4 separate regions of the Homo sapiens genome follow, and all the other regions are reported to be linked to region 4. Evidence: microRNA targets listed by miRTarBase, many of them from high-throughput screens and not tested one by one. Region 4 holds a microRNA gene; each other region holds the end of a gene's coding sequence.
What was found. Region 4 holds the annotated microRNA hsa-miR-513b-5p (UUCACAAGGAGGUGUCAUUUAU, at 1,116-1,137, shown strand). A microRNA usually pairs through its seed, bases 2 to 8, with sites in the 3' UTR of a target mRNA and lowers its output. Matches are read on the target gene's strand: a 7mer-m8 pairs with bases 2 to 8, a 7mer-A1 pairs with bases 2 to 7 and ends in A, and an 8mer does both.

Region 1 (3,124 bases), not on the chromosome of region 4:
TACAAAGCCTCAGGAAAAAAAAGTTTGATTTTTTTTTTTTTGAGACAGAGTCTGGCTCTGTCACTCAGGTTGGAGTGTGGTGACATGATCTCAGCTCACTGCAACCTCTGCCTCCTGGATTCAAGTGATTTTCCTGCCTCAGCTTCTTGAGTAGCTGGGACTACAGGTGCATGCCACAACGCCCAGCTAATTTTTTGTATTTTTAGTAGAGACAGAGTTTCACCATGTTGGCTAGGCTCGTCTCGAACTCCTCACCTCAGGTGATCTGCCTGCCTCGGCCTCCGAAAGTGCTGGGATTACAGGCATGAGCCACCACGCCAAGCCAACTTTGATATATTTTTGAGATCTGTTGCACAGTGTGGTGAATATAATGAGCACTGTACATGTCAATATCACTAAAAGAATAAATTTTAAATATTCTTATCACAAAAAGTTAAATAAGGTGATGGACATTTTAATTCACTTGATTTAATTATTCCACATTGTATTCAAAAATCACAATATCACTTTATACCCCATAAATATATACAACATAAATATTACAAATAATTTGTCAATATATAATTTTTAAAAATAGTTTTTAAAGGGTCTGACTGTAGTACTGACTGCTACCTATGACAGTAAATTGTAAGTTCAATTCCTCCAGTGAAAAGGTCTATGAAGTTAAATCTGCTCACCTGAACATACCAAAATTAACTTTTTTTTCTTTAACAAGGAATTCTTTTTTTTTTTTGAGACAGAGTCTCGCTCTGTCACCAGGCTGCAGTACAGTGGCACGATCTCGGTTCACTGCAATGTCCACCTCTCAGGTTCAAGCAATTCTCCTGCCTCAGCCTCCTGAGTAGCTGGGACTACAGGCGCGTGCCACCACACCCAGCTAATTTTTGTATTTTTAGTAGAGACAGGGTTTCACCATGTTGGCCAGGATGGTCTCAATCTTTTGACCTCGTCAAAAGATTTGATCCACCCGCCTCGGCCTCCCAAAGTGCTGGGATTACAGGCATGTGCCACTGCACCCGGCCAGCATTCTATATTTTTAAAATATATTAGTACAACACTATTATAGTAATTTATTATATATTAGAAACAAATTACTTCAAGGGTGCAGCAGATATAGATTCAGGCAGGTCAGGCAGTCTTGGGGAAAGCCTATTGTTTTAAATATTGGTTAATGATGATTGGCCCTCCATAGAATGATTTTTTGAGGAAATGAAAGGCAGAAACGGAGAAAGATTAGGGAAGACGTTCCAAAAAATTGTGATCATCAGCAGGTATGCTTGTTTTCATAGAAAAAGATAACATTAGCAACAAAATTTGCCCAATATCAGCTTGAGTGAATATTTTCTCCACAATTATTCAGGGCTCAACACATTCCTATTTTGTATTTGTAGGGCAAAATGAAAGTTTAAATGTTCACAAACATCTTCCCACAAAAACTTTCCCTTATTTCCCAAGGGAGAGATGTGGCGGGCAGAAAGCAAATAGTCTAAAAGACATCCTTCTTAGCTTTTGTATTTCAGAAATCTAGACTTCACTCTGTTTTACTTCAATTGGTCAGACAGGGCAGGGAGAGGAGAAGAAAGTGTTGTACCTGAGCAAGTTAGAGAAAACGCCACACTTTGAGACAAATTAAGAGTCGGTTTATTTAGCCAGTGGCCAAGAGACGGCTAACGCTCAAAGTTCTCTCAGCCCCGAAGAAGGGGCTAGATTTTCTTTTATACTTTGGTTTAGAAAGGGGAAGGGGGTCTAGTTAAAACAATTTTACAGAAATAAAGTAGGCAAAAAGCTAAAAGGATAAATGGTTACAGGAAAGTAAACAGTTCCAGGTGCAGGGGCTTTAAGACTATTACAAGGTGATAGACTCAGGGCTTTGGGCGTTATCAGTCAGACGAATTCCTGGGAATTGTGGATATTGCTCGCCACAGTATCTTATCAGTTAATTGCATTCTTGGATGTGCAGCTTGCACAAGTTAAGTCCTTCAGGAAGGGGCTGCCAGTGAAAGAGCCAAGATAGAGTCTGTCTGGCTCTCTTAGCTAAGGGAGAGTCAATTCACGTGGAAACAAGGCTAGGTGATTAAAGGAAAAGGGAGAGTCTAAAAACAGGGTTAGTAAAAACAAGGTTGGGCATTACAAAAGTATGAAGATAAACGAAGAAAGTTTTTAGTTGAGAACAGCCATACCTTAACTGAAAGTCAGTCCTCTGACAGGGAGTTAAGTCCTCTTGAACAGCACCTACAGCTTAAGAATGAATGCAAGTGAAGTAGTGGGAGACTCACCTCACAGTGCACAGTTACTCCAAGGGTGTAGAAATAGCTGGACAAGGGAATGATATCTTGGGAAGGCCCACTAAAGTCCCAGGTATGTCATCAATGAGAAAACTCAGGGAGCATTGTTCTGGCCTCCTGGGGGTAAATAGTCTAACCCATCTCTGTGATATTCACACATATACCCCTCTGGAAAAGTCTAGGACTGGGGGAAGAGGGAGGGGTAAAATGTACCATTATGAATTGTCATGCACAGTCAGGCGCTTAAAAAATATTTATTATTGCCACTATTCATTACAGATGAAAAAAGTTTTGTACACAAAGTCATGGAGCAGCAGCAGGGCTGGGTCAGCAGCACCCCAGCAGCCATAATGAAGCTGGATCCCATTCCCAGCCCCTGTGCAGCAGGTTCTAGCCCTCAGGACCATTCAGACACCTTCACTGCCATCAGAAACTAGTATAGGAAATAATTGGGGGTGGGAGGAAAGCAGGAGTGAATTCAATAAGGGCTTAACAAGCAATCTAATGAAAGCACCAAACCTAAACAATGATTTTTTTCTCTGAGGTAAAAATACGCAGTTTCACAATCACCCCCAAACATGTAAAAGATAAAAACTTTCCCCGGGAAACGAAGAGCCAAACTTTGAGTTTTACACAAGCAACCGGGAGCCAGGCAGGAACTTGTTCAGGGGCCACAGGTTGCTCTCGCCCACGTTGGAGGTGCGCCTCTGGCATTGCTTGCAGCGCCGATACTTCTCACACTGGTCTAGGAGAAACAGCTTGTCTGAAGCCCTGAGGAGAGGAGAGCAAATGCCGATCAGCAGGTTCCTGGAGTTCCTGGAGGCCCAACTTGGAAGCTG
Region 2 (3,149 bases), not on the chromosome of region 4:
CAATTGGCCCATATCTTTACGAAAACATATGAGAACACATACTAGAGAGAAACCCTATGAATGTAAGCAGTGTGGGAAAGCCTTCAGCTTGTCTGCTTGCTTTCGAGAACATGTGAGAATGCACCCTGAAGACAAATCCTATGAATGCAAGCTATGTGGGAAAGCTTTCTATTGCCACATATCCTTACAAAAACATATGAGAAGACATACCGCAGAGAAACTCTATAAATGCAAGCAGTGTGGGAAAGCTTTCAGTTGGCCTGAACTTTTGCAACAACATGTGAGAACGCACACTGTAGAGAAGCCCTATGAATGTAAGGAATGTGGGAAGGTCTTCAAATGGCCATCATCTTTACCAATACATATGAGACTGCACACTGGAGAGAAACCTTATCAATGTAAGCATTGTGGGAAAGCATTCAATTGTTCCTCATCCTTAAGGCGACATGTGAGAATACACACTACAGAAAAACAGTATAAGTGTAATGTAGGACATCCTCCTGCAAATGAATTCATGTGCAGTGCTTCAGAAAAGTCACACCAGGAGAGAGATCTGATCAAAGTTGTAAATATGGTGTTGCCTTTATGAGTTCCTTATCCTGAAAGTGGACACTCAAGGAGTGTGTCTGTAGTTCATTTGCAAATAAACATTTAGTTGAAAAATAATTCTCCAAATACTCTCAGCTATCCTACATGAATTTGAACAGGTAGTTTCTTACGATTCAGTAAATAAAACTTTCATCTTAGAGTGTTTTGGACTCATGGATGATTTGAAGTGTATTTTTAATATGCAAGTAGGTTCAAGTTTTATTTAATTTCTTAAATTGTAACTGACTTAGTGTGACAGGTATTGGATATTACGTATCTATTATATTTTCCACCTTTTTTACTGGGAGTATTTTTATTGTTTGGCCAGAGGAGCCTTATTCCATTTTTTAAGAAGTAGTTGGCAGAATTTTGTAATTATGCAAAGTTGTTTAAGGAGTATAGCCTCAAATGAATTGTAATTTTTAATGTTTGCCCATTGCTGTTTGTCTTTGCTTGTGATTGTGAATTGGACAGTAGGCTTTGACTTGTGATGTGACGGAGAAATCCAGAGTTGCAGATAGTTCTTCTGCATTGTTGTCAGTGTGGGTAGTGTTAGGAACTTCATTTGCTGGAATGCATTTCCTTTATGGTTCCATGTCCAAATTTACCAATAGCAATAACTTGAATGAAATTTAGAATGAAGAAGAAGTAAGTCATCGCTGAGCTTTTGGGGTCACATTAAATGGAGATGGACAGATGCATAGGGGCTTTGTGAACATCAACCTTCAGCTTATTTTCCAGATTCTTATTCCTGCCAATCAAGAGTACCATCAAAAGAAACACTTAAGTGCTTGATTTCCACTGTGTCAGAGGTGTAGTCTTCCTCAGACATCTCCATTAACTTGATATTAGGGATATTCCTGTGTGGTCAGTCACCTAGAGTCTGGATTTTTCTCAAAACCCTGCATGACCTCTTGACCACTGATTCAGACTGTCTTGTTTGGCAGTCTCTGAGCTTCTGATTCTCCCGTTCTGTAGATCTTAACATATTTGCATGGGGTCTAATTTATATAGTGAACACCTTGTTATCTTAATACTTCCAGTGGCTCTGTGATCCTGATTCCACCACGAAAGCCACAGTGTTGCAGTCAAAGAAGAAAAACAACACATGGGACTTTGTACCCTATTGCATTTTTAAGTGTGCCTGCCGAGTCCTATGTGAGAACAAATACCTTCCTCATATATTAGATTTAGGGAGATTTCTGTTACTCAGAACTAAATGCAGTTTCTTGATATAGGTTAAATTATTAGGTTTGATTATGTATCATTAAAAATAATGTGGATTTTGTTTCAAGGAAAACCTTCTGTAGATATTTCTTAGAAATATCCTGTTTAGCTGGGCACAGTAGCTCATGCCTGTAATCCCTGCACTTTGGGAGGCTTGAGGTCAGGAGTTTGAGACCAGCCTGGTTAACATGGTGAAACCCTGTCTCTACTAAAAACACAAAAATTAGCCAGGCATGGTGGTGAGTACCTGTAACCCCAGCTACTTGGGAGGCTGAGACAGGAGAAGTGCTTGAACCTAGGAGGCGGAGGTTGCAGTGAGCCAAGATCACACCACTGCACTCCAGCCTGGGAGACGGGGAAAGACTCCATCACACAAGCAAGAAAAGAAAAAAAAATCCTATTTACTGTGCTTTCAAATTAGTTGTTTAGAGACTATATTAATTTCCCAGGGCTGCCATAACAAAGTACAAAAACTGGGTGACATAGGAAAACAAACTTTTTGTTTCTCAGTTCTGGACCCAGAAATCCAGAAACAAGGCATTGGCAGGACCATGCTTTTTCTGAAGATGCTAGGGAAGGATCTGTTTCAGAACTCACCTAGCTTCTGGTAGTTCCTTAGCTTGTGGCAGCATAACTCTAATTTTCACATGGCATTCTCCCTGTGTGTGTGTCTCTCCATGTGACAATATTTTTATACATACACACCACTCATTGGGTTAGGCCCCACTCTACTTCAGTATGATTTTACCTTAACTAATTACATTGGCAACAGCTCTCTTTTCGCATACTGAGGCACCGCGAATTAAGATTTCAACGTAAAAATTTTAGGAGACCCAATTCAACCCATAACACTAAGAAATGTTATTTTTTGTTTACCGAGAGAATTACAGATTTCAAATCAACTTTGTAATTTTGATAATTTAAGCATGTTACATTTTGAATCAGTATTACCAAGTATATACAAATACAGGTATTTTTTCATATAAATGTTATTTTTAATTGCTGTATACTTAACATTTGCCATTAAAATGATTTTTTTTTTTTGAGACAGAGTCTCGCTCTGTCACCCAGGCTGGAGTGCAGTGGCACGACCTTAGCTCACTGCAACCTTCATCTCCCAGGTTCAGTTGATTCTCCTGCCTCAGCCTCCCGAGTAGTTGGGATTACAGGCATGCACCACCACACCCAGCTAATTTTTTTATTTTTGGTAGAGATGGGGTTTCACCATGTTGGCCAGGCTGGTCTTGAACTCCTGACCTCAGGTGATCTGCCCACCTTGGCCTCCCAAAGTGTTGGGATTACAGGCATGAGCCACCACACCCGGCCTAAAATGA
Region 3 (3,149 bases), not on the chromosome of region 4:
GCTTCCTTCCAGGATCTGCTCCTCGGCCCCTTTACTCTATTTCCTGTTCATCTGTCCCTTCGTCCTGCTCCTCCTTCTGCTCATCTCCCTCCTCTGCTTATACTGGAAGGCCAGGAAGTTGTCAACACTGCGTTCCAACACACGGAAAGAAAAAGCTCTCTGGGTGGACTTGAAAGAGGCTGGAGGTGTGACCACAAATAGGAGGGAAGACGAGGAGGAAGATGAAGGCAACTGAATCCCAAGAGGCACCTGCAGCCAGGAAGGAAAGGTGGGGGCTTTTTAATTGGGCTAACCAGGGTGTGAATGAATCCTGGTTCTGTCCTCAACTATGTCTGCGGCCTTGGGCAAGTTACCTAGGAATCAGAGGGAGCATTCACTGAGTGCTTATTGGTTCTACGCACTGTTAGGTGTTCCTTTGTGTCTTACCTCATCCACCTCTCGCATCCCCCCTTGGAACAAGATAGCATCATTACCCTACATCTCTTGAAGGTTCAGGTCCCTGGGCTGCAAGGAGATAAGAGGCTCCCTCACACAGCCTCTGGAGGGCTAAATGAGATCCTACAGCAATGCCCTGGTGGGGCTTCTCTCTCCCTCTTATGTCACTTGTCACACCTGCTCTAGGTAATCATTTTCCTCCAGATGAGAGGTGTAGGAAAGGACCTGATGCCAGCAAGGAAAAAGGAATTGGTAACATGCTCTTTGTTTACCTAAAATCTGTCCCCACAACAAGAATGTAACTTCCTTCGAGGCAGAAATTCAATTTTCTTCTCCCAGCCCACCTACAAAGGCCCACTCAAGAGCAAGTTCTGTGTAAAGGTGCTTAACTAATACAGGTTCTTTGACAAAATGATAAAACATTTGTAACCTGAGTTTGGGGCTTTTTGTTTATTGTTTGATAAGACTTTTTATTAAGTAATTGCTGAGCAAAAACTTTGTAAAAACTCATGTAACAGTACTCCAGTCAGCCCCCCAAGGCCTCGTACCCCTGCTTCCCCCTACACCTCCATATCCCCACCAAAAGGTCCATCTGGCTCCTGGTGCTCAGCCAGTGCCTTATTTTCTTTGACCTGACAGCACTGGGTGGTAGGGAAGGTATTGTCTGGAGGAGCAGGGTTGACAGTGCCACCGTTCCCTCATACGCCTGCAGGGCTGGGGTTTGGGGCAGCAGTAGGTCAAGTCTGGTTCCTCAAGGTCTCCTATTCTCAGTAGCAAAAAGCAGCCGGTGGGGGTGGGGTGTAATGGCTTAAAGCTTTCAACAGCTGTCCCCACTGGGCCTACAGTCCCCTCATCTTTGTTTCAAAAGCCGCTCAGGCCCTGTTGTAGCCAGAATTGGAAATCAATCAGTGCCACCTAAAGACTTGAGAAAACACATCTATTTATTATCTATGTGACCAACCGAGTTGCTTTAACACTCGTTAATTTGCATTTCCAAGGAGAGCAATTTAGTTTTAATTATTTGATCAGGCACACACGTCCTCTCCAAACATAATTAGTTCCTTCCTAAGGGGATTATTGGTGGCTATGAGCACTCCTACTATGGACCTACCAGTTCCTTAAACTCATGTCCCTTCATAGCCTGATTTAAAATACTCCAAATCTTTCCTTAAACATGTCAGCACATTTGTTTCTTGTCATCCAGGTAAGGGAGCATATTTTTACAAACAACAAAGCTGAAATGAAGACTTTTTTTTTTTTTTTTTTGAGATGAAGTCTCGCTCTGTCGCCCGGGCTGGAGTGCAGTGGTGTGACCTGGGCTCACTGCAAGCTCCGCCTCCCGGGTTCACGCCATCCTCCTGCCTCAGCCTCCCAAGTAGCTGGGACTACAGGCACCCGCCACCATGCCTGGCTAATTTTTTTTTGTATTTTTAGTAGAGACGGGGTTTCACCGTGTTAGCCAGGATGGTCTCGATCTCCTGACTTCATGATCCACCCGCCTCGGCCTCCCAAAGTGCTGGGATTACAGGCGTGAGCCACCACGCCCGGCAGAAGACTCTTAGAAAGTGTGATGACCCCCTGCCCCTATTTTTTAGAAACCTGTATTTTAATTCAAAGGGAAAGAGAGCAGAAGTGAGCCTGGGCAGAGAATCTTGGATGGACTCTGCTGCAGCCCTCTGTGGGAGCACTCTTCACCCCATCCCTCCTCTCTGCTCACATGGACACCTCCTTCAAGCTTCTAGCTCAAACACCTCTTCCCCTTTTGAATCCAGCACAGAGATAGCACAGAGGAGATGTAAGCAGACAGGGAGGGTCTCCTGGGAAAGCAGACATTTAACCAACTTGAGCAATCAGCTTGTTTTACAGCTTCCTGCCTTGCTGCCTGTTTCTTCCCAAGCCCCGTGTGGAATGTGGTGACCTAGTCACCTGGAACCAGCTCCTGACAGACCCCGGCAACTTCTAGATGAACCCAAGTGAACTTTCCTCATTACCATCCTGAAGTCACTACCCCAGGGGGAGCTATAGCTTCATGACCGTAACATGTGACCTGTGTGCTGGCAGGACGACTCACTGCGGCTGCGCCACTGGGACCCCTCCCCTACATGCACCAATGCACTCTCTCCCCTCTCCATCACCCCATAAAACCCTCCTGTCACTTTCCTTCAGAGACACCGCTTTGGAGAGTATTCCCAGCGCTCTCCTTGCTTGTGACAAGTAAAAAAAAAAAAAAACTCCTTTTCATCAAAACTCATGTTCTTGTGGAGAGTTATTTGTTACTCGCCAGGCAAACAAACGCTGGTTTTTTTCAGGGAACAGAGACCCTCAAATATGAAACGGTTCCGGCCAGAGCACAGCATGGGAAGTGTGAGTTCCCAGTGGGTACCTGCTGCATGTCAGGCCCTGTGCTAGGAGCAAGGGGCCCTGTGGTGACTCAGACACAGCCCCATGCCCCTGGGATGCTCACCTTGTTTGTCCTGGATGCTCTGCTTTCATTAATGGGACTTAGAGCACCTTTGATAGTCTAAGCAGCCACATGGCACTCTTTGTCCCATAGGCAACTAAAATCCTCCAAAACTAAAACACCCCCACAGTATTTTCTTCTTTTTAAATTTACAGAATAAAATTTGCCCTGATCCAGTTCAGCAGACATTTTATGTGAAACCTCTTCTCTCTCCAATTACATACTGTTTACCTTTGGTTTTTGAAACTTAGTG
Region 4 (3,149 bases):
TTTTTAAAGTGACCTAACTAATACGCCAAGAGTAGAGAAAATATAACTGAATGCTAAAAATACTAAATCCACCATCAGGCAGAAAAGAGGAAAATTTGGAATAAGAAAAGGATGAAACATAGAAAACAATCAGAAAGCCAGTAGATTTAAATGCATGTATGTAAATAATTGTATTAATATAAATGATATAAATGCTTCTATTAAGACAGAGATTGTCAATTTATATAAAAATAAGAAACAACTATATACTTTCTAAAACAAAGCCATTTTAAATATGAAGACCTACGTGAAAGTTGGGTAAAAGTAAAAGGATGGAAAATATATTAATGCAAAGAATCTTAGAACTAAAAATCTTACAGCTATTACTATTTAATAACACACACACACACACACACACACACACAGAGCGAGTGAGCAGGCACTCAAATAAATGAACTATAAAGAACCATGGAGCTAAGAGAAATAAAATAGCATTTCCTGTCTTCCAGCCCATTATCTGTCTTGTGTGTATCTTGTATTAATTTCTATGGGTTCTTCCTGCTCCATAGCCTGAAGAAGAAATGAAATTTCTACTCTCTCCAACCTGTTACCCTCTGACTCTTCTCCACTTCTTTGCATCCAGGTTGTTGTATTCTGTGGTTTTTCTGATGGACTTTAGGTGTGTGCAGCACAGCTGGAGTTTAGGACAACAGAAAGCTTTGGTGAGTGGTTGGTCCTTTCTACTTAACCAGTAATTTTATGTTTTTTTTTTTTTTTTTTTTTCTATTACATTTTGTTTTTGTTTTGAGACAGGGTCTCACTCTGTAACCCAGGCTTGAGTATAGTGGCCTGATCTCCTCTCACTGAAACCTGACTCCCAGGGTCAAGGTGTACTCCTGCCTCAGCTCCTGGGTGGCTGGGATTATAACAAAATAAAACAAAAATCTGCATGTTAAAATCTCACTCAGGGCAGGATGAAAGGGGAGCACTGGGGGCTAGGATTTGCATAATTCCTTGGCATAAATCTTGGTGGCCATGCTAATGTATACACCTATATAGGGACTTGAATAAAAATGGCATGAATAGGGAGCATTTGGTCTGGGATGCCACATTCAGCCATTCAGTGTACAGTGCCTTTCACAAGGAGGTGTCATTTATGTGAACTAAAATATAAATGTCACCTTTTTGAGAGGAGTAATGTACAGCATGCACTGCATATGTGGTGTCCCTAGGGATGGGGCTGTAGCTGCGAGCATGGTGATGCCTGTTTTGGATCCTGTGCACCCACTCCTCAGTGCTGGGCTACTTCAAGGAACTTTTTGTGCCTTCTAGACGACTAGACATAGGAACTGTGGACTCCTGAGAAAACGCATGCACTCAAGTTCTTTAAGAATTTAACTATTTTTGCCAAATGAGGCTTGGCTCAAATAAGAAATACATTGTATAGAGGCCACAGCCATTCTTCGTCAGCTGGAAGGTTGTACTCCAGATTCCTAAATTCTCTAAACTTTTCTCTCTTGTCAACTAGTCATCATTTGCAAGGCTTCTCCTTTAGAGCTCCCAAAAGACTCTCCTGCCTCTCAGGTCCCTTCATTGTTGATCCACAGTGTCCATTTGTCTCTCAAAGACTAAAATGTTTTTCATTGACTTTTAAATTACCTTTCAAAGCTATATGTCACCAGTTTACAATGGGTTAAGCATAGTCCATCCAAGAATATTTCATTCTTTTTCATTATCTTTTTCCCCATTTTTTAAGAATACACTTGAAGAATGAAAGGGTGTGACAGAACTGATACTCAGGAGATGTCTCCCAGGCTTCTCTCTCCATTTTCTTCTGGTGACACTTCTTAACTTTTAACCCAATGGAGAGAGAGAGAGAGGGAAATAAATACACACACACACACACACACACACAGAGAGAGAGAGAGAAAAGGAGGGAGAGGGAGAGAGAGAGACAAGCGCCAGACTGTGTGATGCCTTCTGCAGCATGAAACCAGTATGCATGTTTGGGAAGTAGGTTATAAATAAGCTACTTATATTGTGGAAATGTGTAAAAAATGTTTTAGAAATAGTAAGTGATTAATACAATTTTGATTCCAACTGAAATAGAGGCTACAGCATATACACTGAAAGGGAAAAACTGTTAAAAAATTACTATATGGTTACAGGGAGGATTTTAGTTTATGTTTTTTTTTTTAGATTCAGAATGGATGAATATGTGTAAGACCATTAGTAACTGAAAGTAAAAAAAAAAATCTGTTGATGTATCTTTTCCATAATGAAACAATTGCACTAATAGAATACAAAGAATCTTTGTATGTGTGTGTGGGTCGGGGGGAACATTCTGAACAGTAAAAAAATTCTGTCAGTTTGAAATACTGTATGTACGTAGAATTTTCCAAAGTGATAACTCCTCTTAGTATATAGTTTCTAAAACTGTATTATAGTGAAAGCATGTTACTTATATAACTTTAAGTGATATCCTAAAATGAAAGTAAGAAAATTTAGTTGTTATCGTATCTCTTTTATGATTTACTCAAAAAGAATAGTATATTCACTGGTATTTATGTTTTCTTTCAGAGAAATTCTGTTTTGTATTATTCATCCATGTTTCTACCAATTTATTAAGGTTTAACTGACATAAAAGTTGTATATATTTAAGGTATACACCATGATGTTTTGATATATGTGTACATTAGGAAATGATTAAATCAAGCTAATTGAAAAATAAAATAATATGAACATAAAATATTTAGGTGAAATTCTAAGAAAAAAATTACAAGATCTCTGTGGTAGGCAGAATAACAGCCCCCTCAAAACAATGTTTACAGAGTAACCCCTGAACTTGTAAACAACACATTTTATTGCAGAAGAAAATTTGTGCATGTGATTAAATTAAATATTTTGAGATTGGGATTATCCTAGATTATCTAGGTGAGCCCAACATTATCACAAGGGTCCTTATAAGTAGGAGAAAGGCGGTTAGAATAAGAGAAACATTGGAAAAGGCTATAGTATTGACTAGAGGTGGAGGTAAAGTCCATGAGCCAAAGAACGGAGAAAGCAAGTAGCATCTTCTTCTAAAGACAATCAAGTAGATTCTCCTCTAGAGCCAACAGAAGGAACAAAGCCCTGCCAATGCCTTCATTTTAGCCAAGAGAAACCTAATT

Region 1: miRTarBase lists CCDC81 as a target of hsa-miR-513b-5p. Seed matches in the 3' UTR shown: 7mer-A1 at 2,845-2,851.
Region 2: miRTarBase lists ZNF555 as a target of hsa-miR-513b-5p. Seed matches in the 3' UTR shown: 7mer-m8 at 1,041-1,047, 7mer-A1 at 1,048-1,054, 7mer-m8 at 1,073-1,079 and 7mer-A1 at 1,298-1,304.
Region 3: the mRNA of CD101 is a reported target of hsa-miR-513b-5p. Seed matches in the 3' UTR shown: 7mer-m8 at 2,640-2,646.

What each region holds. Positions count from the first base shown.
Region 1 is chr11:86,422,506-86,425,629 of GRCh38, reverse strand. It overlaps CCDC81 (coiled-coil domain containing 81), which reads right to left. Exons shown (of 15, transcript NM_001156474.2): 15 at 2,524-3,056. The coding sequence ends at 2,915. Among named protein-coding and RNA genes, the nearest start is that of CCDC81, 49 kb to the right of the region's middle.
Region 2 is chr19:2,853,364-2,856,512 of GRCh38, forward strand. It overlaps ZNF555 (zinc finger protein 555), which reads left to right. Exons shown (of 4, transcript NM_152791.5): 4 at 1-3,149. The coding sequence ends at 589. Among named protein-coding and RNA genes, the nearest start is that of ZNF556, 12 kb to the right of the region's middle.
Region 3 is chr1:117,033,867-117,037,015 of GRCh38, forward strand. CD101 (CD101 molecule) reads left to right here. Exons shown (of 10, transcript NM_001256106.3): 9 at 1-268; 10 at 2,302-2,686. The coding sequence ends at 235. All of the region lies in intron 2 of CD101-AS1 (CD101 antisense RNA 1), which reads right to left. Among named protein-coding and RNA genes, the nearest start is that of CD101-AS1, 24 kb to the right of the region's middle.
Region 4 is chrX:147,197,081-147,200,229 of GRCh38, reverse strand. MIR513B (microRNA 513b) reads left to right here and starts at 1,103; the gene lies at 1,103-1,186. All of the region lies in intron 1 of LOC105373347 (periphilin-1), which reads right to left.